2 separate regions of the Homo sapiens genome follow, and region 1 is linked to region 2. Evidence: fine-mapped expression QTL. Tissue or cell type: lymphoblastoid cells. Region 2 holds a variant in brackets; the other region holds the start of a gene. All regions are shown on one strand. Distances are from middle to middle. Region 1 holds the start of WRNIP1 (WRN helicase interacting protein 1). Region 2 has its middle 32 kb from the start of LINC02521.

Evidence for each region.
Region 1: it holds the start of WRNIP1, and the variant in region 2 is fine-mapped to the expression of WRNIP1 in lymphoblastoid cells (GEUVADIS, PIP 0.92).

Annotation. Positions count from the first base shown.
Region 1 is chr6:2,757,557-2,773,552 of GRCh38, forward strand. It overlaps WRNIP1 (WRN helicase interacting protein 1), which reads left to right and starts at 7,837. Exons shown (of 7, transcript NM_020135.3): 1 at 7,837-8,888; 2 at 11,135-11,326; 3 at 12,564-12,805. The coding sequence starts at 8,067. It also overlaps a transcript of MYLK4 not described here. RefSeq lists enhancers at 6,402-7,281, 7,379-7,673 and silencers at 7,128-7,217, 7,598-7,647, 7,808-8,267, 8,438-8,757.
Region 2 is chr6:2,594,484-2,610,479 of GRCh38, forward strand. No RefSeq gene overlaps it. Among named protein-coding and RNA genes, the nearest start is that of LINC02521, 32 kb to the right of the region's middle. The variant C/G (reference allele first, on the strand shown) is at 7,871.

The sequences.
Region 1 (15,996 bases), 160 kb after region 2:
ACACTGAAATAGAACCTATGTACAAGAGTTATAGATAGGATACTTCCATAAAAAAAAAAAAACTAGGGTTATTGGTTATGTGTCAATTTCATAGTTAGGGAAAAAGGGACAGATCCGGGCACAGTAGATGCAATAGGATCTGAATTTTAACTAAAGAAAGATGCACTGTCAATACATAGCAGATGAATGATAATACAGAGATCCATAGCTAAATAGATAAGATTGCTATACCAAATATGGTTTGTGCTTTCCTGGAGTTATCCATTTTTCTAAAATAAACATATATTTCCTTCTTAATGTAAAAAGGTTGCCAAAATAAATTTCCCAGCCTAGTGGGAAAGTCATGGGCATTGGAGACACACAGCCTAGGCTTGAGTTCAAGCTCTACTAGCTGTGTTGACTCAAGAGCTGCTCAGTCTTCCCGAAACTCAGTGCTTCCTATTTGTTAAGTGAGGATAACAACATTTACCTTATGGGGTTGTTGAGGGGTAAACAATGAGATAAAAATGGTTGATGCATTAGAGAAACTTAATAAATAATAGCCTTTATGGTTATCATTGGTAATATTATTGTTATTCATGTTATCAGATCTCCTAAGAAATAAAAGATTATTTGGCTGAAAAATTTAGAGCCAAGATTCTAAAGACGAAAAATATTCTGGAGTAGCTCAGTTTTCTTAATCAACAGTGTAACATCACTTACTGTTATTGTATACCAGGGCCTTAACAACTATGAAATGAAGTCACAGTAATTTATAATATTTTTTCTTTTATCAGGACATATATATTACATATATATTACATATGTATATATGAAATACATATTTTTGATAATATAAATAACAAAAATGTTATAAGTATACATGACATATAATATGTAAGATATATAACAATAAAAGATATATGTATCTTTTATTGAAAGATATACATATGGAAAGTATATAAAACCATACACTATTTAATAAATAATTATAAAAGCAATACTCATAAAGCCACCACCAGGTCAAGAATCCCCAAATTCAAAAATCCCATCCTTTTGTCCTTCCCAAGCTAACCACTAATCTAAATCTTTTCAATAATTTCCTTGATTTTCCTTGCAATTTTACCATTTACATGTGCACTCTAAATATATAGCTTCGTTTTGGCAGTTTTAGTTTGTTTGAATGTATTCATACTGTTTGTATTATTTTCTTAGTTTTTTTCCCAGTTAAAACTGTCTGTAACCCATCATATTGTTGTATATAGTGTGTATAGATGTCTTTAGTTTTCATTATTATATAATATTTTGTTGTATGAATATTACAAAATGTATGTGTTTATTCACTGATGGAGACATTTGGCTGTTTTCCATTTAGGGCTGCTATGAACACCAATGTGCACACATGAAGTACACACACTTAAATGTATACACAAGTTTACACTCCCACCAGCACTATAAGAATTCTCCTGTTGCTCTATAGCTTTAAAAACACTTAGTTTTTGCTAATCTATTGGGTGTGCAATAGCATATCATTTATAAATTTAAATTTCATTTCTCTTACTAAAGAGTTGAAGGGTTTCTCTTTTGTTGTTATTTTTAGAGACAGGTCTTACTCTGTCACCCAGGCTGGAGTGCTGTGGCACAATTATAGCTCACTGTGGCCTTGAATTCCTGGCCTCAAGTGATCCTCTCGAGTAGTGAGGACCACTGGTGCACAATACCACGCCAAGCTAATTGTTTAAAAAATTTTTGTAGAGATGGAGGTCTCACTTTTTTGCCCAGGTTGGTCTTGAACTCCTGGGTTCAAGTGATCCTCCTGCCTTGGCCTCGCAAACTGCTGGGATTACAGACATGAACCACTGTGCCCAGCTAAGATGTTCTCAAATACATATTTGGTCACTTGGTCTCTGTTTTTCATGAAGTACATATTTATGTTCTTTACTCACTTTTAATTACATTTTCTCCTATTTTCTTATCATTATGTAGGACTTATTCTACATCCTACACACTGTGCTTGACAGTAATGTGTGTTTAAGATGTCTTCTCCCTTTCTGTTCCTTGTATTTTCACTCTTGTAGTATCTTCTGCTAAATAAATAGATGTTCATTTTCATGTAGTAAGATGTATTAATCTTTTCCTTTTACGGTTAGTGCATTATTTTTTAAAAAATAAACCTTTCCCCTCATCAATGATGTTTTTACCATTCAACATGATAATGGTGCTGGTTTGAGGGCAAAAACAAAAATCATCATGTTAAGAAGATAACTTTCTCTATTTTACTAGAGATTTTTAAAAATCAATGATTGAAGTAGACTTTTGTCAAATGTCCTTTCACATTCCACTTTATAAGATACAGAGAACTGATCTTTCCAATAATTTGACAATACAGTTGGCCCTCCATTTCCACATGTTCTGCACCTTCTCATCCAACCAACAGTGGATCAAAAATTTGGGAAAAAATAAGAAACAGCAGTACAATTAATAAAAAATAGGACAAATAAAAAACCAATACAGTATAATAGCTATTTATATAGCATTTACATTGTATTAGGTATCACAAGTAATCTAGAGATGATTTAAAATATATGAGCATATGTGCATAGGTTACAAAAAATAATACAAATAAAAAAGCAATACAGTATAATAACTACTTATATAGCATTTACATTGTATTAGGTATCATAAGTAATCTAGAGATGACTTAAAATATATGGGAGTATGTGCATAGTTTTATAAGTTTTATTATAAAGGAGACACATGGGTGAGGGGCAGGAGGGTCCCAGACATGGAGCTTCCAAGCCCTCTCCTTGTAGAATCCAGGCACACCACCCTCCCAGCACATCATCATGTTCACAACCAGGAAGCTCCACTGAGTTTCTATGTCCAGAGTTTTTATTGAGGTTTCATTGTGTAGGCATGATTGATTAAATTGTTGGCCAAGCAATCAAATTCAATTTCTAGCCCCTGAGATTGAGCTGGTCCCAAGTTCCAACCTTAGGGAGCCACTAGGAGTTGCTTCATTAGCATTATATAGGCACTCCTAGCACTCAGGAAATCCCACGGGATTCTGAAGATCTCTGCCAGGAGCCAGGGAGAAAGGCTGTATATACTCCTTTTTATACTATGAATATCAATGGAAAATCACCTAAAACTAATAAGAGTTCACAAAAAGGCCAAGTATGAAATAAATTAACAAAAAATCAATGCATTTCTTTCATACCAATAAAGGGCAGTAAGAAAATAGAGTAAATAAAAGGTTCTACTTACAATAGTAAGGAAATATATAAAATGTGTTAGAATAAACAATACGAAATGTGGCATAGATTCCAGAAGATGTAGTGGAAAGTCAAGAAGAGAGAGGAACATGAGTTTGGGTTAGGGGGCAGTAATCAGAGTAGGAAGAATAGATAACCATACGACTAACTTTTAAGATGCTGACTAAAGATGGCAGGGATGTGAGTCATGTGGGATTAACTGGACTCAACTGTCCAGCATACCTTAGGTATGAACATGAAGGTGCGCAAGATCATGCCCAAAGGTTCACTAGTAGTAGATGGCTTATAAAATACCTGCTCATAGGCACTGCAGCCAGGCTGACTCTACTTGTCGTTACTGACAGGTCTATTTGAGTCACCACCGAATCTATCCTCCCCATTCTGACTGTGGGGAAGGAAGACAGAGAAGATAGTTACACACTTAAAAGTAAACCACCGAGGCCAGCTGCAGACAATTAAACAGTGAGGTATTAAAGGAGAAAATGGAAGCCTAGGTTTCTGCTTTACATTGATTTCATTTCCTGGGACCTTATACTATACGAGTTTAAATTTATTTGTATTTATGCTGATCTGAAAAGAAAGTTTAAATTTGATTGGCAAAGCAATCTAAGAGGAGGGGTGATTTTTGAAGTACGTTTTTTTCATTTATTTTTCTACCATCACCACCTAGTGGAGAAAACCTTGAACTTCAGACAGAGGGGACTAGGGTTCAGGAAAAAATATTACTACAGGACCTACTGGGTGCCAGGCACTTTACTAAATACTTTCACATTGACAAGTTCACTTAATTCTCATGACAGACCGTGAGGTAGGCATTCTTATTCCTCCTTTAGATTTGGAAACTGAGTGTGAGAAGTTATGTAGCTTGCCCAAGGTCACACTATGGACAGCTCAAAACCCAGGTTCTTGAAGTCAAGGTCTAGAGTCATTTTCACCTCATAGGTCATCCAAATAGCTCAACTTCATCCATGTATGTAGCTGTGGGAGACATGCACACACACACACAATCTTTGCTTTGTATTTTTCCTTTTTATTATTTACATAATATAGGATAGAAAAGCACAAGTAGAAAAAGGAAATGGCATTATACTATATACATTAGGTTTTGTTTTTATTTTTTGAGACGGATTCTCGCTCTGTCGCCAGGCTGGAATGCAGTGTTGTGATTTCGGCTCACTGCAACCTCCACCTCCTAGATTCAAGTAATTCTCCTGCCTCAGCCTTGCAAGTAGCTGGGACTACAGGCTCGCACCGCCACACCCAGCTAATGTTTGTATTTTTAGTAGACAGGGTTTCACCATGTTGGCCACGATGGTCCCCAACTCCTGTCCTTTTGTGATTCGCCCGCCTCAGCCTCCCAAACTGCTGGGATTACCGGAGTTTATATTAATTCTATCTCTCTTAATTTTTACTCCCATAGTACACAAGTTTCCCATGACAATACTTTTGAAAACCCTATTAACAATAAAGTTGGACGTAAAATTAGGTCTATATGCAACTCTACTGTCTAATCTTGAAACACGTCCTAAGAGACTTAAGGTACCAAAATACTAACAATGATTACAAGTAGACTTGTAGATTTTCCACAGCATTATTTTCTGAAAAAAGAAATTTTAGGCCTTATATTAAGAGATTCAAGAAATTTGTTTCCATTTTAAAATTTTTTGGATGGGTTAATTGATCATGTGGCCACGTTATCTCTATAAATGTTTAAAATCAGTGTACTGTATTTCCACATTTAGTAACACTTTTCTTGAAAACCTTGCTTTGAGATCAGCCCTAAAACTTGTTTTGCAAGTATTCACTTCTGTGATGCTCCTGCAATAATCCTTATGTGCTCGCAGTCAATGAGTTTTTACTCTCATTAACTTGATGAATAAACGCATAGACCCTCACGGAAACTGTTAACAGTTCTTAAACACAGTGCAGAGTTTCTTCTTTCTGGTAGCTTCCTGATCTCGCCGGCTCAGAAATCAACTGGCAGACCTTCCCGGAGACCGTTAGAGGTCTTAGGTCAGCATCTCTTAAGTTAGCCGTTCCTGCCAGTGGGTTCAGTGGGTTTGTGGTCTGACTGCCTTCAGAAATAAAGCTACAAGTCTCCACAGTGAGTATTACCACTCATTAAGACAATTCAGACCCAAACACCAGCTAATGCAAAAAATAAAAGAACAAAACACCCACACAAGCAAAAGAAAGCCAAGCGGGTCTCCATCGCCAGCTCTAGCAGCCTGCTTTTATTCTCTCATCTGGCCCCACCCACAACCTGCTGATTGGTCCATTTTACAGAGAGCCCATTGGTCTGTTTTACGGAGAGCTGATTGGTCTGATTTGACAGGGTGCTGATTGGTGTGTTTACAAACCTTGAGCTAGATACAGAGTGCCGATTGGTGTATTTACAATCCCTTAGCTAGACATAAAGGTTCTCCAAGTCCCCACCAGACTCAGAAACCCAGTTGGCTTCTCCCATTAATTTCTGAACTGGGGCTGCAGTATAGAGTTGCTTGCTAGTCCCACGTAATGAGCCTGCATTGCTCAGCTCTGGGGTGGTGAACGGCCCTGGGTGCCGTGAGGCAGTAAGCAGCGCTTCTCAGGGAGGCTTGGGCCGCGCAGGAGTCCCCAGTTGGGGGGAGGCTCAGGCATGGCAGGCCTGAGCCTTGCGCTGCGTGGAGGCAACTACGGCCTGGCGAGAAGTGCTGTCCCAAGTGCTAAGCTCCTCACCGTCCTGGGCCGGTGGTGCAGGCCGCTCCGAGCGCGAGGCTTATCTGAGCCTACTCCCACCCGGAACTCGCGCTGGCCCGCAAGCACCGCGCGCAGCCCCGGTTCCCGCCCGCGCCTCTCCCACCATACTTCCCCACAAGCTGAGGGAGCCAGCTCCGGCCTTGGCCCGCCCAGGAAAGAGCTCCCATAGTACAGCGGCAGGCTGAAGGGTTTCGCAACCACGGCCGGAGTGGACGCCAAGGCAGAGGAGGCGCTGAGAGCGAGCGAGGACTGAGAGGGCTGCCAGAATGCTGTCACCTCTCACTGCTGAGGGACAAATGAAAAAAAAAAGCTCACGGTCGGGCGCAGTGGCTCATGCCTGTAATCCCAGCACTTTGGGAGACCGAGGTGGGCGGATCACCTGAGGTCGGGAGTTCGAGGAAGAAACCCCGTCTGTACTAAAAATCCAAAAAAATTACCTGGGTGTGGTGGCGGACGCCCGTAATTCCAGCTACTCGAGAGGCTGAGACAGCAGAATCACTGGAACCCGGGAGGCGGAGGTTGCCGTGAGCTGAGATTGCGCCATTGCACTCCAGCCTGGACAAGAGTGAAACTGCGTCTCAAAAAAATAATGAAAGCTCACGATCCTCTTTTGGTAGTTTCACGTTACATGATGATTAAAGTTTAACTTGTTTCTCTAGCGTTTCTATTAATCTTATTTTTGAGCCTAACTTTTTTAGTTAGAAACAACTCTTAACCAGCCAGCCAGGCGTGGTGGCTCAGCCTGTAACCCCAGGACGACTCCAAAGGCTAAGGCGGAAGGGTCCCGGGCGCCCAGGAGTTCAAGGCTGTGAGCTCTGGTCGCGGCCCTGCACTCCAGCCTGGGCGACAGAACGAGTGAGACCCTCAATGTGCTCTTGCCCAGATGAAATAAAAATTCAAGTTTTGGCCAAATTTCGGAAAAGTCTTCATTCTCCCTCAATTCATTTACCTCTTCTAGTTACCAAAAATGCCTGTTTTGAGATACATGTTTTAAAACGGGAGACTTAGACAAAAGCAAAAAATAACATGGTAATTCATTCAAAGATGCAGACTACCACACTTGTTTTAATCTGATATTCTTTCCATTTCTATCCGTCTAGGACGTAATTGCACACGGGCGCCTCCCATCATTTGGTTGCTAAGGAGACAGAAGGCTGGTGTTTCCGATTTGCCACTATTACACAGCGGCCCGCGAGAAGCATCTCTTGGCTCGAAGCGCGCTGTAGGTGAACCGCCCTTGACTTAAACGCCAACACATCTAAAAGGGGGCGAGGGACGCTTTATTTTCATTTCCCTGACCACTACTGAGGTGAGCATTTCTTTCACTCGCGTACTTGTTTGTATTTTTTCTGCTGTTCACGTCCAATAGAACACTGGTTTTCTATTGGAGGCTTTTGGGTTTTTTCCCCCATTTCCCTTTCGTTACAAACGACCCGCTGCGGCCGCCTCCTGCTTGTCCCCACAGGCCCATTCAACAGCCCAGCACGGAAGGCCGGGAAAGCGGCGCTCGCCGCTCCAACAACCTCGCGCAGTCCGTGGCTCCTCCCTGCCCTCGCGCGACTCGCAGGCCTGGGCGGAGGGCTGCGTCCGCCACCGCGCAACCTCGCGCACGCGCACCACGCTCGCCTCGCAACCCCCCCCCCCGCCCCTCCCCCGCCCCCGCAAAGGCTGTTCTCAGAGTCGGAAATGGACGCACGGCAGCTGGGGCGAATGGCCGCGGACTACACTTCCCGAAGTGCCGCGCGAGGTATTCTCGGCGGTGATTGGGGCAAACGGCCACGGACTACACTTACTTACATGCCGCGCGAGGCGCCTCCGCCGCCGGGGCAAACGGCCACGAACTACACTTCCCGACACGCCGCGTGAGGCGCTGCCAGCGGCCGGCCGAGGGCGGGCGGACGCGGGAGCTGCGGACGTGAGGCATGAGCGGCGCCCTCCTCCGGCCCGCGAGCGTCCTGCTGGTTCCCCGAGCGAGGGTCTCGCGGCGCGGGGCCTAGCGGAGGGCATCGAAGGCCTCCGCGTGCGCACGGGTTGCTGCGGCCGCGCCGGGCGCCGGGGAGGGCGGCGGCCGCCATGGAGGTGAGCGGGCCGGAAGACGACCCCTTCCTTTCGCAGCTGCACCAGGTGCAGTGCCCCGTGTGCCAGCAGATGATGCCCGCCGCGCACATCAACTCGCACCTGGACCGCTGTCTGCTGCTCCACCCGGCGGGGCACGCGGAGCCCGCGGCCGGGTCGCACCGCGCCGGGGAGCGGGCCAAGGGGCCCTCGCCGCCCGGCGCCAAGAGGCGGCGGCTGTCGGAGAGCTCGGCGCTGAAGCAGCCAGCCACCCCGACGGCAGCCGAGAGCAGCGAGGGCGAGGGTGAGGAGGGCGACGACGGCGGCGAGACCGAGAGCCGCGAGAGCTACGACGCGCCGCCCACACCCAGCGGCGCCCGCCTTATCCCCGACTTCCCGGTGGCCCGCTCCAGCAGCCCCGGGAGGAAGGGGTCGGGGAAGAGGCCGGCGGCCGCCGCCGCGGCGGGGAGCGCGTCTCCGCGCAGCTGGGACGAGGCGGAGGCGCAGGAGGAGGAGGAGGCCGTGGGCGACGGCGATGGCGACGGGGACGCGGACGCGGACGGCGAGGACGACCCGGGGCACTGGGACGCGGACGCTGCCGAAGCCGCCACCGCCTTCGGGGCCAGTGGCGGGGGCCGCCCGCACCCCCGGGCGCTGGCTGCCGAGGAGATCCGACAGATGCTACAGGGCAAGCCGCTGGCCGACACGATGCGTCCTGACACGCTGCAGGATTACTTCGGGCAGAGCAAGGCCGTGGGCCAGGATACCCTGCTGCGCTCGCTCCTGGAGACCAACGAAATCCCCTCGCTTATCCTGTGGGGGCCGCCGGGCTGCGGCAAGGTGAGTGCGGCCTTGGCCGTTGGGCTTCCGTAGTTATCTCGGCGGTGGATGCAGCTGATGGTCGGAGAGCCGGGTGTGCTGCCCTCGAAAGAAGCCGCCTGCCTCTCCTGGATAAGGGGGTGCAGACTTGGGCTGGGCTGGGGCAGTGCCTGGTCCACAGGTGGAGTCTGTGATGGGTGTGAAAAGGGCACACACCCCCAGATTGGTAAGGCAGGCTTGCCGGGTTTGCAAAAGGACGATGTCTGTGAATCCATAGTTTTACAAGATGTGGACTCTTAGATTTGATCTGCCTTTATCTTCCATCGGTCTCCCCGCCCCCTCCCCAGACTTTGATTTAGTAACCGAATTCGCAAGGAATCAGCATGTTTAAATTGTAAAGAAACATTTGTATATTCCGTTTGTACATAATAACGGATTCAGCTTTGAAAAAAATCAAATTAATTCTGTTGTGCTTCCTTCCTTTTCCACTAGTTGTTGGTTTAACAGACTGGTATTTATTCTTAAGAATAAGTTTATTTAACATTCTTATATTCTTGAGAATATATTGATTTTACTAAATATACTCATGTATTTACAAAACTAACATAAAAACTTTTTCATCTGCAAGTCATTTTCATCCGGTATTTCCGTAACTTTTCTCATAATGCCTTGTACTCTAGAGAAGAAACATCCGTGCATTTTGGTGTCCAGTTCTGTGTCCCTTCGTGAGGCGTTAGCGTTCCAGATGAGGGCAGTTAGGATATTGTGAGTCTAGAAAGCATGTCATTGGAAAAACACTTGAGAAAAAAATGGAGGAGGTGAGCCAGAAAACAGAGAAAGCTAAGAAGTGCTTAAATACAGGATGCTTTTATCCATAATAAGGGAGAAGAACCAGCATCAGGAAGGGAAAGGGAGAATTCAGGGATCAAACTGTAAAGAGTTCTTGTAGCTTTGAGATTCAGACTCGTTTGCACACAAGGCTTTTATGATTTTTCTCCTATTTTTCTTTCTAGCTTTATCTCCCACAACTTAAGCACACCCCCTTTAACTCCAGTTCCTGGAATGAATTGCCCTTTTTGTGCCTTCTTGTTTGCACTCATGCCTTCCCTTTGGCCAGGAATAAACCACATCTATCCCAAATAACATCTTATGATGATGGTGGTCGAGTTGTTGACGTCTGTCCCCATGGATTTAGTTGTTAACCCCATTTAAGGGATTGAGCAGTATCATTCTTAGTAATTGTGAAGTCTTTACATAAGATCATGAGAATGGATAATCAGCTGTTGGTGGCCCCAGACAGCAAGAAGGTCCTTAGGGAGACGAGTGGGTGAGCTCATCCCACCTACCAAATGCCAGGCAAGAGGTTTGGGTGGTCCAGGCTGCTCAGTGAGATGGGCGTTGGTCATTTGCAAGCCTAGGCATCTGTGACTTGCGAGCCTGATTCCAAAAGGCAGGCAGGCGGGGATTTCTGAAAGAAGCAGCCACAGAATGGGTGCTCTACAACTTTTAGAAAAGAAAGTACCACCTTTCCATTTAGGTGCAGATTTGTCACAGTCATTAAACAGTCTTCAGTTTTTCTTCTCATCCTTTAGTACTAATAACAACATTCATATTAATAACAGCATATACATATTTGTTGAGGACCCAAGAAGTGCTTTACCTGGGTCTCCTTGGTTTTCTAGTAATTGCTAATGTGACCACAGTGCTGCCCTTCATCTCCTACCAGAGTGAACATGCAGAAGTGGCCTACAGTCATCTCAAATGCTAGGTGGATGTCATTGGTCTCAAGGCAAATGCTCCCTCACTCTCCTTTTCTCAGCTGTCCTGAGCTTCCAGTTCGGGCTGTGGTTCTGCGATGAGTTCTGCACCTAGATCCTTCCGTGCTGTCTCGGCTAGAGGAGGGAGAATTTTCTCTTTGGTGAGAGGTCACAGCTGTCACTCTGCTAAATCAAGACAGCCGTTCTTTACTGGGATTCCAAAGATCTTAAAGAGTCACCCAAAAAGGAATCAAAGGTGGTTAGGGACAGAGGAGAAAAGGTCAGGATTAGCCTAAGGTTTAGCTACTTTCCTGTTTTATTTATAATATTTTTGTTGTTGTTGTTTTTAAATGTCCTGTGGTATTTTTGATTGTTTCTGTGCTGCTCAGCATTCTTCCGAGGTCAAGTTGCTTTTGGTAAATAGTGATGCTGCGTGTGGTGGTTCCCATGGGTGCTGGTCTCTCTGTGTCTTACCAGCTTTTCAAACTCCATGTATGTCATCTTTTCTAGACCACTCTGGCTCACATCATAGCCAGCAACAGCAAGAAACATAGCATAAGGTTTGTGACATTATCTGCAACAAATGCCAAGACAAATGATGTGCGAGATGTCATAAAACAAGCTCAAAATGAAAAGAGCTTTTTCAAAAGGAAAACCATCCTTTTTATTGATGAGATTCATCGGTTCAATAAATCTCAGCAGGTATATTAACTTCCTTCTACCTTTTGGTCGTTGTGAACATCAAACAATATAAAGTGTGTGAGATCACTATACAAACGCTAGAGACTTACGAGCTTTGTTTACAAAGAAGCGTAGGCTTGTGAACCCATCTCCTTCAAGCCTATTTCTCCATACATTTCTTAGTGTTTTTTGATAACAAGAAAATGCTTTCTCTATCTGATAAATGAAATGGTTGGCATATCCCTGAGCTATACGTATCAGAAAAGCACCTTTGAATCAAATTTCCAGTTTTAGGAATTTTTAATCTAAATACTAGGAGTCATTGTGAACAGTAAAATAATGATTTTAAGGTCATTATTTTAATGGGTTTTTAAAAATTACTTTAACAGTATTTTTATTTTGAAAATTAAACAATCGGTATTTTCTGTAACTCCAGGCTCTGTCTTCAAGGTGAATGTTGGAAGAGCTAATGATTACTGTTTATTTAAATGGGTTTCTGAAATAAAAGGACACAAGCTATTTTTATAAACAAAGCCACTTAGGGATTTAAAAAAAAATAAACATTAAAATTTTATTGGGCTGAGATCTGAGAGCTATACTCTAAATAAAAAAAAATTAAATTTTTAGGCATAACTTTAAAAAATTTTTTTTTGTAACTTTTTAATCATACATAGAATATTTCACAAAACTCTACTGAGCCTTTTTTGAACCTTTTTGAATAAAAAGACCCTTTTAAAGTTCTGACGAGGCGTTAGCATTCTAGGTTTCATATTGGACCACTGACTCATCTTAGTATTTTTTCCCCATAAAACAGCATAATAGGAATAATAATAATATGATTGAGTGCTTGCTGTGGAAGAAGATTCTGGAAGTGTTAATGTTTTTGTGTGTTCTTGTCTATAAATAAATAGCTGTTACATATAAGCTATGTGCCAGTTCAGCCTTTGGTAGAAGATGGTTTTCTGAGTAAAGAAATCATTTATGTTGAAACTAAGCTAGAATTCTACTTAAAGCTATTAGTCTACCAGCAAGAGATCAGGCTTGGACGGGCATTCCAGAAGATGTGTTTCAGACTTAAAAGCAAGAGTTGTACTCCCCCAAATATTGCATCTATATTCAGTGAATATAAGGCTGCTGCTATTCCTGAACTCGAAAGATAAAAATGAGGAAAAGGAAGGAAGGGATAGCCAACTTACATAGGATTCTGCAGGTGGCTGTTGACTGGAATCACTTTTTTCTGTTTTCCTCCCATGATTAGGACACTTTCCTTCCTCACGTGGAATGTGGGACGATCACTCTGATTGGGGCAACCACTGAAAACCCTTCCTTCCAGGTCAACGCTGCTCTTCTGAGCCGCTGTCGAGTGATTGTTCTTGAGAAGCTTCCAGTAGAGGCAATGGTGACTATTTTAATGCGAGCGATCAACTCCCTGGGAATCCACGTCCTAGACTCTAGCCGTCCCACTGACCCTCTGAGCCACAGCAGCAACAGCAGCTCAGAGTAAGTTGACAGTGTGCAGCGTCCTGGGGGCACACACCTCCCAGAGAGTCTCCTGGCAGGGGGCCAGAAAGGGCCGGGCGTCAGTGAGGAGAGGGTGGGGACAGAGAAGAAATGTTGATCCGCCCGTAATGAAAATAAAAGAGGAGGGAAATGTTCGATTATACCTAACAAAGTTATCCCTGCACACTTGAAGATGCATTTTCCAGCCTCTAATATGTGTTTCTATAATTCTTCAAGCTTTAACTTTGCTTTGTTGTTTTGGTTCTTGGGTGTTTGCTTTTGTGCTTAGGCTTCTATGGGAAGCCTTATTGATGATTTGAAAGGCTTTATGTCCCTCATTGAATAGAACAAATAGATAGATAAATACTTTCTAGACTTACCATACAACTCTTTTGAGCATTGTACTCATGTTTCAATTTCTTTTTAACCTGCAGTTTAGCATTTTGTTAAAAAAAAAAAATCAAGTAAAAATTAACTTGTAACCTTAAAATTATGTAATCCTTTTTGTGTAGTTGAAACTCAGTTTCATGAAAGTAAAGGAATGTTAACTGAATATGACATTATAGGCTGTCCCTATCCTTTTAGTGACCTATTTCTGCATCATGAGTACCACATGAGCTCGTTAATGCACCAAGTGTATATCATAGATAATTTGATTTCTTGGGTCAGGGGTTTTCCTTTTTTTTAATATTAGAACATATTCTTCAGATGGTATTTGTTCATACGTTGGCTGAAATACTGCCATGGAACATAATCTGGTGTGATGAGAGGCTATTGCCCACCTCCTCCTGCTGTGGACTCTGCAGCTGCTCGTGCCTGCCCTGAGGCCAAGTTCTGGAGCCACTTTTCTGTGAGGATTAAAGTACAAGGCATAGTTTAGGCTCAGGGTTTAGGTTTCACCAGGCTCTCCCTATGTGTCTGGCCCCATTTGCTCCTGTCTGAGATGGAGGGAGAATTCTGCTGTGTCTAATGAAAGCATTGAAACATTTGGCCCGTGGACCACTGGGTAGGACAGAGTGGCCTTGTTTTGGAATACCGTTGTGATGGGGATAGCCATTACATCTGTGGCCACAAGCAGTGTGTGGAACCTGTGGTATCAGCCACATGGACTCATACTCAGAAGTGCTTTATGTGGTGGGCATTTGTCAGAGCCTAAGGGGGCTGCCAGCTCCTCATATGTAGTACAGGTTGAGTATCCCAAATCTGAAATCCAAAATGCTCCCAAATCTAAAGCTTTTTGAGCACCTTCATGATGCTGTGAAAGGAAATGCTTATTGGAGCACTTCAGATTTCTGGATTTTGGGTGCTCATCTGGTAAGTATATAATGCAAATATTCTAAAATCAAAAAAATAGGAAATTCAGACCACTTCTGGTCCCAGGCACTTCAGATGTGGGATACTCATGTGTAGGTTTCCCGTAACAGAATTCTCATTACAGACGCATAGAACCACATGGTAAAGACAAATTGAAAGAAAAGGGGGGAAATCCTAACATGTTTCATGTTTCTGTGTGTTCTTTGCTCTGTGTACTGGTTATCGTAATGTATCTGCAACTTAATATTCTGCATGTGTACTTGTCTGGGGTGATTTTTATTGATTTCATGTCATCAGTTCATGAAATAGAACATGAAATCAATAATTAATATTGATGACATGAAGTCAATAATAATCAGTTGTTACTCAGATACCCTCAGGTTTTTTCACCTCTCCCCAGTCACTGCCGTGCAGGAATTTAAAGGAAATGAGAAAGGCGGCAGCCAAGGAGCTCATCCTTGTGAGAAGAATTTCTATATTTTATTATTAAAAATCCTCAGGTGATTTGCAGGCACATTAAAGTTTGAGAAGATCAAGTGAAATAATTAAGATTTAGTTATTGAAACTGATATAACAATGAGCTAGAGATTGTTTATCTGCTAAAATTGCTTTTCAGAGAAAACTTCCCATATCCAGTAAATGATTTACTATTTCCACTACCGCTTGCTTAGACTTGATCCCAATTATATTTGCTATCTTGTGTCCCCCGCTTTCCTGGGAAGACTGTGAGGACAGGAGCTTGTCCCTGTTCATATCCCCAGCACAGTGCCTGGCACACATTATGTGCTTTGTGAATGGTTTGGAAATGAATAAATCCTAGCTTTCGATATGAGAAAAGTAGTTTAATATGTTTTGCATTATCCAGCATAAGGGATAATTACCCAGGTATCAAGAGCCTTTTTCTTTAATACTATTGCCCTTTTCATCAGCAGCAAGCAGAGTAAAATGAAAGAATGTTAAGCTTAAAACCATTAATTGGTCAACTTGTTAGCAATTCTAACAAGAAGTTAAGTTAGGAGATATCATAGGCCACAGAAAGAACTCTTACAAGTGATTTCCGAATACAAGTACCTGCCACCCCAACTGTCAGGGATAATTAAGAGTGGATTGGGATGTCTTTTAGTTGTTTTAGGTAAAATTTTGCTTTCCAATCCCTGTTGACAGCTCTATATACATCCTTGTGCATATAAATCAGATTTGGTGACACTAATCTAGTTGAAAGAAAAGACTTCCAACCCCATATACTTACTTTCTCTCTCCAGGAAGCTATTGGTGTGCATTTGTATTCTTGTGTCATGTTTTGGTGCCCTAGATAGCAACTAGAACATTTACAGAGAAGTCCCAGGCTGTTGAACTGCACGTGAGAGGAGGTGAGCAGGGCACTGGATTTGGAAACTAATCAAGCTGCCGCTTAGCCGTTCTTGATTGCACTTGAGGAATTGTGAGTTGTCACACAGTATACTCATGTAAGTGATAAATTCCCATTAAAGTGAAATAAGTGTTCTTTTTTTAAAAAAAAATTCCCTCCTGTAGTTATTATTCAGTCAAAATTGAAGCTCCTGCATATGCTAGGCATTGGCTGAGGGTTGAAAAGCTTGTTCCTGTGCCTTCAGAGGGAGCGCAGTATGATGAAGGCTAGGGGAGCAGGTCCACTTCCAGTGCCACGCTTATACGCCAAGTGCAGTGGGCGTAGAGAAGCAGCATTCAGAATATGTGAAATCCAGTATTTCACCTCCTAGATGAGGGGATGCGGAGTTGAGTTTTGAAGGATAAGCAGAATTTAACTGAGTGAAATAGAAAGCTCATTGTCTACGCCATAGTTGCTTTGGTTTGTATGGCTAAGCAGTAGTGTTCAGGTATTTTGCTCTCCCAAAAAT
Region 2 (15,996 bases):
GTTAATACCCAGGGATCCCGAATGTCATTATGTCCCCACTGCTACCTTGATGGAGCAGGGCATGTAGAGGCCAGTTAATAAGTGGAGTCCTGGCACAGGTCTGGGCTACAGGAGTCCACAGGACCCACAGACCCACCCCGTAGTCATCTTCGCTGTCCCTGGGTGTATAATTGGCATGGACATATTTCATAACTGGCACAACTCTCATGTTGGTTCATGGGCCTGTGGATCGGCTATCAGGGCAGGAAAAGCCAAGCTGAACCCTCAGAAACTGCCCATCCCCAGTGAAAGGAGCAAGTCAGAAACAGTATTGCATTTGGGAGGATGGCAGAGATGAGTGCCACCCTTCAAAACCTAAAGGACTTGGAATTAATAGTCCTCTATCAAATCTCCATGTCACCCACCAGTCACTCCCCAGAAGAACAAGACAGGTCTTGGAAGACAGCAGTGAACAACTGCAAACTCTGCCAAGGCACTCCCCAAGTGCAGCTGCAGTGCCAGATGTGGCATCTTGCAGAAGCAGATTAACAATACAGCCATTGATCCTCTTTTCTATGCCTAAAGGATTAGAAACAATACACATTCCTTTGGATCAGACAAGATTGCACACGTACGGTTCTGCCACAGAGCCATGATGTCTCTTCTATCCTCTATGATCATATAGCCTGGGGAGGCCTGGACATTGGACACCTGCAGAAACTCACACTGGCCCACTGTGCTGATGACTGCTTGCTAATTAGAGCAGATAGGCAAGATATGGCAAGTATGTTGGATGCTATAGTAAGACCCATGCACTCTATGAGGTGGGAGATAAATTCCATGATAATTTAGAGGCCACCACATCAATAAAAGTTATAAGATCCAGCAGTCTGGGAATGCCAGGACATCCCTCCAAAGTTAAAGACACATTACTGCTTCTTACACCTCCCGCCATGAAGGAGGCATAGCACCTGAGAAGCCATGGAGACAACATCCTTCATACCTAGCCATATAGTATTATGGTATTTCCTAGGACTGCTGTAACCAATCACCACAAACGGGGGGCTTAAAGCAACAGACACCTGCTCTCCCATGGTTGTGGAGGCCAGAAGTCTAAAATCAAGGTGTTGGCAAGGCCATGGTCTCTCCAAATGCTCTAGGGAAGGATCCTTCCGTTCAGCTTCTAGAGGCTCCTGGCATTTCTTGGTTTGTAGAAGCAGCACTCCAATCTCTGCCCCCATCTTCATGTGACCTTTCCCTTGTGTATTTCTGTATGTTTCAGATCTCCCTTTCCCATCTTCATGTGACCTTTTCCTTGTGTATTTCTATATGTTTCAGGTCTCCCTTTCCTTTTTCTTATAAAGGCATTTGTCATTATATTAGGACCCACCCTACATCCAGAATGATCTCATCTCAAGATTCATAATTTAATGACATCTGTAAAGACTATTTTAGGGTCACATTCACAGGTACTAGAGGTTAGGACTTGGATACCTCTTTTGCATGGAGCGGACAGTTTAATCCATTATACCAAGAAAAGCAAAGGGATGTCAGCTTTGAGTGGAGTGAGATCAAGATGTGGAACAAGGAAGTGTCACTTAGCCATACAACCTTGCAGACTCTGTGGTATGGGGGTATCTGTGGGGAAAGATGCTACATAGAATATATGACAAGCCCCAGTAGGAGAATTCCAACATAGTCCCAAGGGCTTTAGACCAGGGCCGTGCCACCCGAAGAGGAGAATTATACACGTCATGGAAAACAACTCCCAGTAAGCTAGGAGACCCTGGTAGAGTGCCAAAGTTGTGTCACCAAGTGACCCTAAAGCCAGAACTGCCCATCATAGCTAAGTTCTCTCAGATCCCCCCAGGTTGTAAGGTTGGATGGGCCCAGCCAAGTCATCCATCATAACATGAGAGTGTGCAAGGCTGGAGGCATGGGGGAGCCACTTGGGCAGGTGCCCAGACCCCAGGCCGCCCACTGGGTGGCAGCAGTGCCTCTCCCTCAAGCACCTCTAGACCCTTATGGGGAGGGGTCCTTCCTGGCCAGCTCAAGAAGGAGGAGCAATGCTGAGATATGATCACACAGTGCATGAGTGTGAGCCAGAAATGAACTCCAGCTGCTCTACAGGGCTCTACAGCCCCTCTCAGGGCTGGCATCGAGAGACGGTGCCACTAGGTGAGCCACCAAGGCCAGCAAAGGTGCCCGGTGAGCATGGGGAATCCTGGAATGGGGAACACCTGTTGTTGCTTTCCCACCCTTTGCAGTGGCTGGGGCTGTGGTTTGTCCTTTTACACATTTCCCCCCAGGAAATCAAGCCCACCAGGCTCATGGAAATGCTGCCTTCAGATGTCTGGGAAGAAGTAAGGCCCAGCCATGCAAGGCTTGCCCTTGGCTGATGACATTCAGGGCTGGTGGTCCTTTGTTGTGGAGGGCCAGCTGTGCATTGGAGGGTGCTCAGCAGCCTCTCAGGCCTCTACCCACTGGAAGCCCTCCCCAAGTCATGACAACCCAAAATGCCCACAGACATTGCCAAATGTCCCCAGGAAGCAGAATCACCCCGGCTGAGAACCACTGCACCAGGCTGGAGGGCCGCCTTGCTGGGAAGCACACCTCCTTCCTGCCAACCTGCCTCTGGTCACTGAGCCCCAGCCACCCCGAGGGCCCTGCCAGCCTGCATGGGGGCCCAGGCACTCTTTGTGTGACTGCATCACCCAACCTGTACCTTGGCCAATGCTTGAGGACTCCCTGAGGATTCTCATACACAAACCCCCATGTCAGAGTCAGCCTCCTGAGAACTCTGGAAGCGTTGCTCATCTTCCCCTCTTCCAGAATCGGCCTTAACTGAAATAACCAAGTTTGTCCTTGCTCATCTTCATGAGTTTATTCAGTAACAACTTTTAACAATCACTGTGTGTTTGCTGTCCACACGGTGCTGAGCCCGGGACACAACAAAGACAAGACGGACTTAGGTCCAGGGCCGGCTGCTTGATTTGCAGGGCCCTTAAAAAATTGCTAAGAATTTAAAGACAGGCTTATTTCAAGAATTTCATGGTGGCTCATGCCTGTAATCCCAGCACTTTGGAAGGCTGAGGCAGGTGCATCACCTGAGGTCAGGAGTTTGAGACCAGCCTGGTCAATATGGTGAAACCCTATCTCTACTAAAAATACAAAAATCAGCCAGGTGTGGTGGCAGATGCCTGTAATCTCAGCTACTCAGAAGGCTGAGGCAGGAGAATCACTTGAACCTGGGAGGTGGAGATTGCAGTGAGCCAAGATAGCGCCACTGCACTCCAGCCTGGGTGACAGAGCGACACTCCACCTCAAAAAAAAAAAAAAAAAAAAAAAAATTCAAGACAGCAACAGCAGAGCATTAAATCCAGTGAGGGTCCCTTCAGGGACCCTGTGCGGCTGCACAGATTCTTTGCCCATGATGCCAGCCTGCATAGGTCATGTTTTCATGAGACAAGTATTAAACCATTAATTACACACACAACTGTTTTATTGCAACTGTGAGAAGTGTTATGTTGGAGAGATGCAGGCTCCATGTAAGCCAGTGAGAGAGTTACACCCTTATGGGTGGGAGGGGTTGTGGGAGAGAGAGGGATTAGGGGCCACGGAGACCACAGCCCCTCACCCCAATTCCTCATCACCTGACCTGCCTGCCTGACAATTGGCAAGCAGTGTTTTTTTATTTGAGACCACTCAGTCTCTCCAGTCAAAGAAAATGGACCACAGACATATGGCTTCCTCTAGATGCTATACCGCACTTCCTCCACGTAGAAACAGCTCCGGGGGAAAAAAATCATTAAAAGAAAAAAAAATGCTGTTAAAATAAAGTGAATGGAAACATAAGGAGGTCCTTTACTGCTTTAAGAAAATAAAGCCAGATCCAAAATATTCTGAGACACACATTAGAGAATTAGAGGGGATCAAAAAGTCCACACAAGGGCCAGTTATACGTCAGGTTCGGAGACTGATTTAATTCTACACTTAGAGCAAGGAGACCACAGTTCTATTCTCAGTACTCTCTTCTAATTCTGAGAAAGTCACTTCACCTTTCTGTTCTTTGTCTGAATATGAACAAAAAAAAGTGGGTCTGTCATTTTGGATTTCATGAGCATTATAATATTAGGATGATTCTTTGAGGACGCTTTGAACTAACTCTTGTGGAAGCACAAACACTGTATTTATTCAAAGAGAAGGCAACCTAAGTTTAGTGTCCACTGCCCAGCCACACACAGCCACAGGTTGTGTGTGTGTGTGTGTGTGTGTGTGTGTGTGTGTGTGTGTGTGCGCGCGCTGGGGGTCACCGGACCTTCCTCAGTGCCCATGCGCTCCCTTTGGGCAGGGCCTATCTGAGCCAAGTGCTGGGGAGAGGAGCTAGCTTTTGGTGGCCTCTGTGTCTGAAGGCCTCGTCCATGGGTAGGATTGGTCCTGACATTTATTTTTGTTTTCTCTTAAGTGGAAATATTTTAAGCCATTCTTTTGTCCTGGTGATCATTTTTACTTGTCTTACAGACCTGGGCAGCCACACAGGCACACAGCAGCAATGGTGGCATGGGTGACATGACCGCAACAGGAGTGGCGCCGTGTGTGGCTGACTGCAGGGCCCCCTGCAGGTGGGCCTGCCCCTCACTGCTCCTGCCCTGTGTCCAACGCCAGCACTGTTCAACCTCCCCACGCTCATGGTCACACCCATCTCTTCTGTGTGTGGTGCATGAGGCAACAAAGTCATGGGAGATTGGGGAGAACTATGAAAAGGAAGGTTCTTTGATGGTTCAGTGACACAAAATAACTTTGCAGGGTTGAGAGGATCACAGTTCCATGTTAGTCAGAAAGGGTGGGAATAAGCTTCCGGGAGACTGAACTCACTAATATCATAAGCAAAAGTGTGTGCACATACAATGGATGGGTGTATGGGTTTCTTCTGAGGACAGAGTATTTAATATTTACCAAATTTTACCCCAGAAATGCCCAAACACTTCTTCTGCAGCATCTCTATTGAGTGGCCTTGCAAACAAGAAATAATTGCCTCTTGTGGGGCCTCCTACATTAGTCAGGGTGTTCTGGAGAAGCAGAACGGATAGGATTGCTTGCTCTCTCTCTCTCTCTCTCTCTGTGTCTAATCTATCTATCCATTGAGAAAGAAATTTTATTTTAAGGAATTGGCTCACACAGTTGTGGGGCCCTGCAAGTCTGAAGTTTGTCAGGCAGGCAGGCTGGCAATTCAGTTAGGAGATTGATGTTGCAGCGGTCAGACTGAATTCCTTCCAGAAACCTCAGCCTTTCCTCCTAAGTCCTTCAGCTGATTGGATAATGCCCACCCACATCATGGAGGGTCATCTGCTTTCCTCAGTCTACTGATTCAAATCTTAATCACGTCTAACAGATGCCTTCACAGCAACATTTAGACTGGTATTGACCAAACAACTGGGTACTACGGCCTGGCCGAGTTGACACATGTAATTCACCATTGTACTACCCCATCTTGGGAAAGCTCTAGATGTCCTTAACTGCAATGAATAATTCCTATAATGACACCACCAGTTGACAGTTGGAAATGCTCTTTAATTAGCTCATGGTTCTCATGCTTACCCAAGGTCATGGCGTCCTTTCTTATATGGCCACATCCCAGCAAAGTCAGCAGTCACTTCTGGTGAATGATTTGATGAGCACGAAAAGGCAACATCCACCCCAACTCCCCCCAAAATATTTCTCCTTTTCTCTTCCAGAAACCTTAACATACTACATCACTCACTTTGGGGGTTAAATTGTGAACCGCAGAAGTCTAAGCTGGTGGACATTGCTCCGGCAACGTGAGGGAGTAGGTGAAGCTGATTTTTTCAGAGCCAGTGGTAGTCATTGGTGCTGTTGCTCTCACTTCCAGTGCAGAGCAGGTTTGTGCCTCACCCTCTGTGAGTTAACTATGGCCACAGGCCTGCTTTGGCAATGGAGGTGAGGATGTGGTGTGTGTTGCTTCTGGGCAGAAGCTGTGAGTGTCAGGCCACTATTCTTTACATCCTGTCCATGGCCAATGATAACTGTAGGAGCCTCGTCTGCCTGGGACCCTGGGGGACTTTGATGAGCACAGCCTGTCTGTAATCCAGATAAGACATGGAGCGTGAGTGAGAAATTGTGCTTGTTACTGCAGCATACCCTGGGCCAACCTGGCTACACCAAGCTGTGTGTGGCTTTCACAGCATACACCTCCCCATCTTCATTGTGAGCAATCGAGACACAGGGCTGAGCTACTAGAACCCTCTGGCTCCTTAGGTTTCTCAGCACCACAGGGTTGCATCTCACTGAGGCCTGGAGAGATGTCTTACCTTCTTCCCTCATTCTTCTTCATGTTAGCCATGTCCTCTATTGCTTTGGTCTGAAGGTTTGCATCCCCCAGGATTCACCTGTTGAAATCCTAGCCTCCCAGGTGATAGTCTTAGAAGGTGGGGCCTTTAGGAGGTGATTAGAGAGGAGCCCTCATGATGGAATTAGTGCCCTTACCAAGAGAACCCAGAGAGCTCTTTATCTCTCTTTCTGCCTTTGAGGATACAACAAGAAGATGGCCATCTGCAAACTAGAAAGAGGGCCCTCGCCAGGTACAGGATCTGTCAGCACCTCGATCTTGGACTTCCCAGCCTCTAGCACTGTGAGAAATAAATTCCTGTTGTCTATAAGCCACTCATTCTATGGTGATTTGTTACAGCAACCTGAACAGACTGAGATGTCTATGAACACAGAGGCAGAAATAAGCCTTCACATTTTGAAAATTATATTATGAAAAAGAATTATGTATAACTCTGTGGTAATAAAATGGGAAATTGAAATGCAATTGAATTGAGAAGAAAGAAATATAGAAAATTAGAACAGACCAATACCATGGAAGAAATTGAGAAAAGATGTCAAATAAATTGCTTCAAAAAGTTCTATAAACCACTTTTTTTATGCGCAAGTTCTTTTAAGCTTTTAGGGAATAATAATAATGAATAATTTAAAAACATGTAGAAATAGGAAAGTCACATCAGGTAATTTTACTGGCAGAAGGAGCAAAAAAGAAAAGAATCTATAAGTAAATCTAAACTTTGAATATCAATGCATAAACTCACGCTTAAGTAGGGTTTATTCTAGAACTTAAGGCTGATTAATGGCAGCAAATCAATCTGTGTCTCTGATCAAAGCAGATGAACACAGGATGCCCCCATTAAGGGTCTTAGCAGATAGACTGTAGGCATTTGGTAAAAGTCAACATCCTTTCAGAATGAAAACTTTCAGAAAGCCAAAACTGGATACTTCTTTAATATGATAAAGAATATTTCAAACCAACAGCCAACATCATACTTGATGGTGTCAGTTAGAGCCAATTCTATCAAAGTTAAGAAGAGGAGGCTCATGCTGACCACTCCTATTTACTGTTGTCAAGAAGCAACAGGGTGAAGACAGAGGAGTAAATATTGGTGAAGTGACAGAAAATTGTCCTCAGGGATAAGGAAATTCAGAGCTATTCACAGATACTAACAAATGAGTCGAACATTGCCTAAAATATTTTAGGACAATTAGCTCTTGTAATGAGGCATCTAGCAGCAGAGAGTTATGAAAAAGAAATATGTTGAAAATGTTAAACAGAACTGCAAAATGTTCACAATAGCTTTAAAAATGTGAACTGTCTACAAATTAAACTTATTTTAAGAGGAATATAGAAGGTATTTATTTAGAAAAAAGCCTTAAAAACTTTATTTTATGTTATTTTATGAGACTGAGTCTCACTTTGTCACCCAGGCTGGAGTGCAGCGGCGCGATCTCGGCTCACTGCAACCTCCACCTCCCAGGTTCAAGTGATTCTCCTGCCTCAGCCTCCTGAGTAGCTGGGATTACAGGCATCCACCACTGTGCC[C/G]GGGCAATTGTTGTATTTTTAGTAGAGACAGGGTTTCACCATGTTGGTCAGGCTGGTCTCGAACTCCTGACCTCAGGTGATCTGCCCACCTTGGCCTCCCAAAGTGCTGAGATTACAGACGTGAGCCACTGTGCCTGGCCAAGAACTTTATTAAGATTAAAAAAAAAAAAAGGCAATAAAATGGAAAGGCAGATCATGTTGCTGAGTGAGAAGATATAGTACATCCATGTAAATTATCCTCAAATGGAACGTAAAGTGTTAATGCAATCTCCATCACAACCCCAATATTTTCTTTAACTTTAAAAAGTGATTACAAATTTAAACTTGAGGAATAATTTGGGAGGAATAACTAAGAAAAATTAATAACAATACCTGAAAATGATGATGAGTGTATTTTTATTATTACATATTAATGTGTATTTTGCTACATAGTTAAAACAGGTTTCTGTTAATGTAAAAAGAGACAGAGCAGATTTAGAAAGATCATTCAAAAATCCAGAAACAGGCACAAGTGCATATCATTATTTAATATAAGATAACTTTGGCGCTTCGTATAAACAAGGAAAGGAAAGATTATTAAATGTACCAGGAAACCTACTTACCTATCTGGAAAAAATTAAGCTTTTTACCTTACTCCAAATATCAAAATAAATTCCAGATGGATTAAAGAGATAAAGTGTTAAAAATGAGACCTTACAAGTAGTAGAAGAAATTTAGCTAAATATTTATATAATTTGGGTGTTTGAACGGCCCTTTCTAAAAACAACATTGAAGTCGGGGATTGTAAACTAAATTACCAGTATCTCTGACTGCATGTGATAAATTCCATAAATCTCCTGAGCAAAATGAAATGTCACTTCACAAAGCAGAAAAATACCTGCCATATGTATTCCAGATACAGAACCAGCGTCCTTAAATATAAAGAGCTATTGCAAGCAGTATGTAAAAGACAGATTCTTTGGCCAACAATTCACTTCCTGAAGTTCATCCCAAGGAAATAAGCCCGGAGGTGGTCACCACAGAGCTTGCCCTTTTAAACTCCCTGTAGAGTTGATCGGAGAATCCACCTTTCCCAGGAGAGAGCTTCAGCAAGACCAGAGTGAGGGGGAGTCAGGGGTGCTGATGATGGTCTACTGGAAAGGATCTTTTGGGGGCAACATTGTACACCTCCGGTTGCTGGAGAAAAGGGGACACTGGGGAACTAAAAGAAGGCATCATGTAAATGGGGTGTCATGCTTGGAGGGATGTCAGAATCTAAGGACAAAGACTCCCACTTTGGGGGCCCAATAAAAAATGGCAACACTCAGCCAGAGTGGCATAAAAGGCTGCAAAGAATCCTTGAAACAACCTTATGACTTATGAGTAGTTAGTGTCACCTCTTTTGTTTTTGTTTTTATTTATTTGTTTATTTTTGAGACGGAGTCTCACTCTGTTGCCCAGGCTAGAGTGCAGTGGCATGATCTCGGCTCACTGCAACCTGTGCCTCCTGGCTTCCAGTGATTCTCCCACATCAGCCTGGCGCTAAGCCAGGCCCTGGGAATGCAGCAGTGAACCAGGGAACATAGACCCGTCCGCTAGGAGCTCTCAGATGTTCACCAATGAGCACCACAATAATGGTATAATTACGCCTGTGGCACCTGCCGTGAAGGGAATTCCGGGGAGCCACATGGGCATGTGGCAGGGGTCCCAAGTGCATTCAGTTAGCTCCCACCAGGGTGATACATTTATTCAAGGACACAGATTGGGCTGGACACGGTGGCTCACGCCTGTAATCCCAGCACTTTGGGAGGCAGAGGCAGGCGGATCACGAGGTCAGGAGATGGAGACCATCCTGGCTAACACCGTGAAACCCCGTCTCTACTAAAAATACAAAAAATTAGCCGGGCGTGGTGGGGGGCGCCTGTAGTCCCAGCTACTCTGGAGGCTGAGGCAGGAGAATGGTGTGAACCCAGGAGGCGGAGCTTGCAGTGAGCCGAGATCGCACCACTGCGCTCCAGCCTGGGCAACAGAGCGAGACTCTGTCTCAAAAAAAAAAAAAAAAAAATTACACAGATTGCCCTCATATCACCTGCTGTTTTATGTAGCTGGCCCAATTGGGACCAATAATTCTGATTTCTCCATCTTGTCTCTCTAGAAGGAAGTCCCTTCCCATAGCCAGCCACTGCCATGCATGTGGAGTGACGGCAGAGGCCCATGTGGCCTGTGTGCACTGTGATGTTCTCTGCATCAACATGGACAGAACGTGTGGGAAAAGTAAGAAAAAGAATGCAATGTACACCATAATGCCCTTTATGTAAATTAAAGCACATACACATACAAAACAGCCCAATATGTTATGTAAAAAAATCCATGATTATTTGGTTATTTGAGGACTTGTATAAAACACCTTACACTGGGTCTGGGGGTAGAAGCAGGGGGATAGCCAGGAAATCAGGGGTAAAAGGGAAAACAATACAGCAGGAGAGGAGCCTTGAACAGATTATACTGATAAATGCAATTGATTAAATCTGTCTGTGAGGTCCCCAAAGTAAACAGAAGCAAGAAATCATTTGGCAAAGCAAATAGCCTCTTGTACTGTACAGAGGGTGATCTTTAAATGCTGGCCCTAAGCTTAAGGCAGAGAAGTTTCATGATGGGAAACCAGGTCAGGAAAGATAGAAGCAGAATGGAGGAGAAAAGAAAGAAAGAAAGAGAAGAAGAAAGAAAGAAGGAAGGAAGGAAGGAGGGAGGGAAGGAGAGGCAAAGAGAAAGAGAGAGACACAAAGAGAAGAGAGAAGAAAGGAAGAAAGAAGAAAGAAAGAAAGGAAGAAAGAAAGAAAGAAAGAAAGAAAGAAAGAAAGAAAGAAAGAAAGAAAGAAAGAAAAGAAAAGAAGAAAATACACAGAGAGGCAGAGAAACAGTAGGAAAGAGGGAAGGAGGAAGGAAGGAAGGAGGGAAGGAATGAAGGAAGGGAGGGAGGGAGGGAAGGAGGGAAGGGAAGGGAAGGGAAGGAAGGAAGGGAAGGAAGGAAGATGACCAACCTAAGTGAACTCTGGGAACAACGGTGAATGTTTGTGTTTATATAAACATGTTACTTTAAGATGGTTGACTCCTTACAGACAAAGGCCATATTTTCATCACTTCCTATAAAACCTCTCTACAATACCCAACAAAGTGAGAGGTCCTTGGTGTTCCCAAAGCATTTAAGAGATAACAACAGTAATGTCCATGTGAGATCCTCGCGCTGGTGTGTGGTTTCTGAAGTGCATCCTGCAATGTGAAATGGTAGCTGCTATTCGGTGTTGATAACCTCAGTTCACTGTGGATCCCATCCGACAACGCGTGAAGTCAAGAAAAGCCAACTGTGACCCCACTGAGGGGGAAGCATCTAGTCTCTGCTTCCTGAACAGACTGTTCCAAAAACGGGGCTGTTGTTTCAGTTACTTACAGTAATAAAACCACCGCGACCCCATATCCATCTTTCCACATTCCCCACCTCCCATCCTACCCAAGGTCATGAATATCAAACTTGGAAAGGAAAAGAATGAAGGACGTCTCCCCCAGCAATTAAAATTAAGTCCTTTTTCTTGCCTCCAACTAAAATCTTGGACGTGATGGCAGTTGCATTTAGCGGGATCCCAAATGCTGCTTTTATATGCCAGCATTCCATTCGGGGGGCTGATTTGTAGGTTTAAAAATATGCAATGTATGAAAGAGAGGCTCATTTATTTATTTCCTCCCTTGACTGACCTTGGGCCTTGATTTATCTCAAAACCAAGAGAATTTTCCTCTTGGTAAAGGAGGACTAATTCTTTCAGTGAGTCCTTGATAGTTTCTGCCATCAAAAACAAACCATAAGCTGAATGTACAGAAATGCCCTGCATTTAAGAAAGATGACATGGGGAGTAGTAAAAGCAGGAGGAAGAGAAGTGTGAGAAGAAAAAGAAGCAGGGAAAATCAGGGGGAAAGTGATGTTGAACAAATCATGCACATTTCAAGATTTTTAAAAAAGCAATGCGTTTGGGGATGGATAGCTGTCACCCTTGCCACCTTGGAGGAAAGTTTTGCTGGCTAACTGGCTATTGTCAAGCAGGCCGGGCTGGTGGCCTCGGCGGGCTGGCTGACCTTCCCCTGACTCCAAGAGGAAAGAAATAGTGAGGCTCTGTGTCCTGCGAGTCGGGCCTTCCTGTGACCTGAGTGCAACGTCTCAGCCCCTCTCCGACAACCCTCCAGCAAAGCTTGCTGGAGCTCTTGGTTTATTTTTTCAGGTGAGTGAACGCCGTATCAAATACTGGTTTCTCAGTTGCTTTTAATTAGGCTTCTGGGTTCCACTCTTTCATCTCGCCTGAAATCTGCATCACTTTTCTCCAGCTATTTCAGGTTCTAAAGCCACGGGTTTGCTTTCATTCAGCTAATTGAAGGCACACAGGAAAGGAGAAGGGGGATAATCCCAATCATTGGACATTTTTTAGGGCTGTGATAAACCACACATTTTTTAGCAACAGAAAACCACTTTCAAAACGTTAACTCTGCGGCCTCTGCTCAGGGGCTGGAGGGCCTACCCCTGAGGCTTCAAGGTTCATGTCATGTGGGATTCTCTGAGACTCCTCGATGCAGGTAGAGAGCAGGAGGGCAGGTGAGATGCCGTGATGTGACGGAACAGGCCCCATCACTGTCCCTTTCTGGTGTCGAGCTACTGGGAACATCGCTGTTGAACTGTGTATCTGCAAAGCTCTGGGGTGGAGGCCCAGCCACACACAACATCGGAGAACAGAGCTGATGCTGATGTCCCCTGAAGTGTCAGCCAGCAGCCAGGTGCTTGCTTAATCCCAGAAAGGGCAGTATATATTTTTCAGTAAAATTTTATTAAATCCTAATAGCAGATCTTTTTTTGTGGAGCAAAAAACTCTTGAAAACTATATTCATGAGGTATGTATAATTTGTTGGTTTTACCAAGGCTTTTTAGTAAACAAGCTTTAGATCTTGCCAGAGTATTCAAAATAGGTTTATGTAGAGCAAATATTTAAATTTATCTGTTATTCTATTTTTATAATTAATGAATAGGATTATAGGCATTTAATAAAACTTCTACAAAATAGAGCAGGGTGGGGGGGTGAATCCTACTTATTTGCTACCAAAAGAATCAAAATAACATTTATATTTATATCTCAATATATGGTTCTTCAAGTCATTTCAGGAGATGAAACAGTATGTGTTACCAACGGCTTTTAATTATAAAAACAAAGTGTTTAAATGGATCCAACACAGTCAGTTGGCAATACATCTAAATTCCATGTTATAGTGGCCTTTGTAAGGCAACAAATGGGGAAAGTACTTGTTAATTCATACAACGTCAAAGAATACCTGATACCTAAATAGCTCCCACAGTCAATTGAAAAAAGACCAACTATTGGGAAAATGACACTTTCCAGACAAGATCACAGAAGTTTAGATAGGTGAGAAGATACTCAGCCTCACTCATGATAATTAAAATGCAAATTAAACTATACTGAGATTTCATTTTCCAACTCCCAGGTTGTTTAAAAAAAAAAAACAAACCTAACAGGTTAATATGCTGGTGGCAATGGAGTAGAGGAAAGACATTTATTAAAAGCTGAAGGGCCCAGCACTTTGGGAGGCCAAGGCGGGCTCATGATGAGGTCAAGAGATCGAGACTATCCTATCTAACATGGTGAAATCCCACCTCTACTAAAAATACAAAAATTAGCTGAGCGTGGTGGTGCACACCTGTAGTCCCAGCTACTTGGGAAGCTGAGACAGGAGAATCGCTTGAACCCGGGAGGTGGAGGTTGCAGTGAGCCGAGATCATGCCACTGCACTCCAGCCTGGCAACAGAATGAAACTCCATCTCAAAAAAAAAAAAAAAAAAAAAAAGCTGATGGGAACATATATTGGTTTCAATTTCTATGGGAATTTGGCAATACCTACTAAAATTATAAATGCAAATGCCCTTTGACCCAAACTTCTTTTTCCAAAAATTTATTCGACAAATACATTCACCTAGAGGAAAAGTTCCTCTATGTCCCCACTTTCCATACTGTGCTCTTTGGAAGGAAGTCATTATCTGCAGCCCACATTTATGGGGTGGGGAGTTAATACTCCCCATCCTTGAGGGCAGAGTATCTACAGAAATTATTTGAAATTTTCTGCACAGAACATTTGTCTCTTTTCTTCAATTCATTTATTTTTTCAATCATTTGTTGATATCCGTATGAGTTCGTGGTTATTTATTTTATACTTTGAGTTATCATCCAAAGCTACTTTATTTACTTAGCTGAGTTTTTGATTAAACGGAATGATTGTTTTGGCATCCAGTAAAAATTGGCTTAGAACCCAGAGCTCATCACACAGCTCTGTGACCTAGTAGTCTCTTTGTATGTGCTCATGGAGTACCCATGTCTCTAGTCGTTTATTGGTTTGTCAAGGGTGTACCATGTGCCCTTTACTGTGCTAGGGGTACAGCAGTGAATGGAAGAGACTGCCTGCCTGCCTGCCCATGGGAATTATCAACCTAATGTCTGACTGATTTACTGTATATGTAGCATGGCACTAGAAAATCTGGGGCAACAGCAGGGGCAATATTATTCCTTTGGAATGATAGTAGTCATCTGGGCAGGCTAGAGGGACACCCAGACTCACACAAGACTAGAGAGAAAATAGGCGTAGAATAAATATAAGCCAAAACACCAACACCTGTCTGGTGTGCTGAAGGATGAGGTGAATCAAAGACAGATTTCTTGAGATGGCATGGAATAGACGCTCTTATAAAAGTTTTGTTAAAAGGAACTAGGCAATCATTGGAAGGATGGGGTCAGATGTAGATTTTCCTATGCAGCATTTAAAAAAATAGAACAGACAGACTATCCATAAAACGCAGGAAGAGGAGGAGGCCATAGGAGACTGAGGCTGTAGCTGAGAGGTCACCCATAGAGCAGACACTTCCAGCCACAGGAGGGGCAGAGGGTTTAGTTTTGGAGAGAGGATGAATGTGGAGAAAAGTAAAACACTCAACATTCAATGTAAAAGGGAATATGTATTGTTAGGCTCTCTGAGAGGCGAAATAGACCATGAATTCTTAACAGCTTCTTGTGTGTTGGAAAGACCTATGAAAAGTTTCATTAAGTTTTGGGGAAAAGCAGGTAGGGTAACTCCATAAATCTAATGTCGAGCTGCTGTGGTGTTTCTTTGAATGGTGAAAGATACATTTTTTCCCTTTAGTTTGCCAAATTTTACTGCCCACACTCTTACCATTGCTGCCGGGAGATCTGATATGTTGAACTCTTAATATGATGAATACATGTCTGAGGATTGAAAGAAAAGCAGTGGCATTAAAAATGTCAGAATAACAGCAGTGTAGTTTCAGTGTTCTCCATGAGCCGTCACTCCTAACAATGGGTTCTTGCTTGTCAAACCTCATATGTTGCTTTGTAGAAGCAAATACACTGACTGGGATCTGCCTTGAGAAAAGAAAACAAAAAACAAGGTTGAACGTTGGGCGTTTTCGTTTTCAGTCTGAGCTTTGAAGGTAAATTTCGTCCTTGATTGTTTTGTTATTTTCTTTGGGCTCAAACTCTTGGGCTCCATCTTTCTTTGGCCAAGTCCAGGTTTCTTGGGTTCTTTCCATTTTCTCCAGGATTATCCACACATGTGCTTCCTTTCCCACTGTTTCTACTAAACAGATACTGGACGTAGAATTACAAAGTTACATAGTCTTCTTTAAGACTTTAATTTTTTAAAGCAGTTTTAGGGCCATGGCAAAATAGAGAGGAAGGTGACGAGATTTCCAATATACCCTCTGCACAGCCTCCCAGTGATCAACACCCTCACCAGAGTGGCATACATGTCACAGTCAATGAACCCACCCATATTCACACATCATCACCACCCAGAGTCCATCGTTCACATTAGGTTCACTCTTGGTATTTGGACCAATGTATAATGATATCATCCACTATTACGGTATCATACAGAGTAGTCGCACTGCTCTAAAAATCCTCTGTGCTCCACCTATTCATCCCTCCCTCCCCCTAACTCCTGGCAACCACTGATATTTTTACTGTCTTCATAGTTTTGCCTTTTCCAGAATGACACATAGTTAGAGTCACAGTATGGAGCCTTCTCAGATT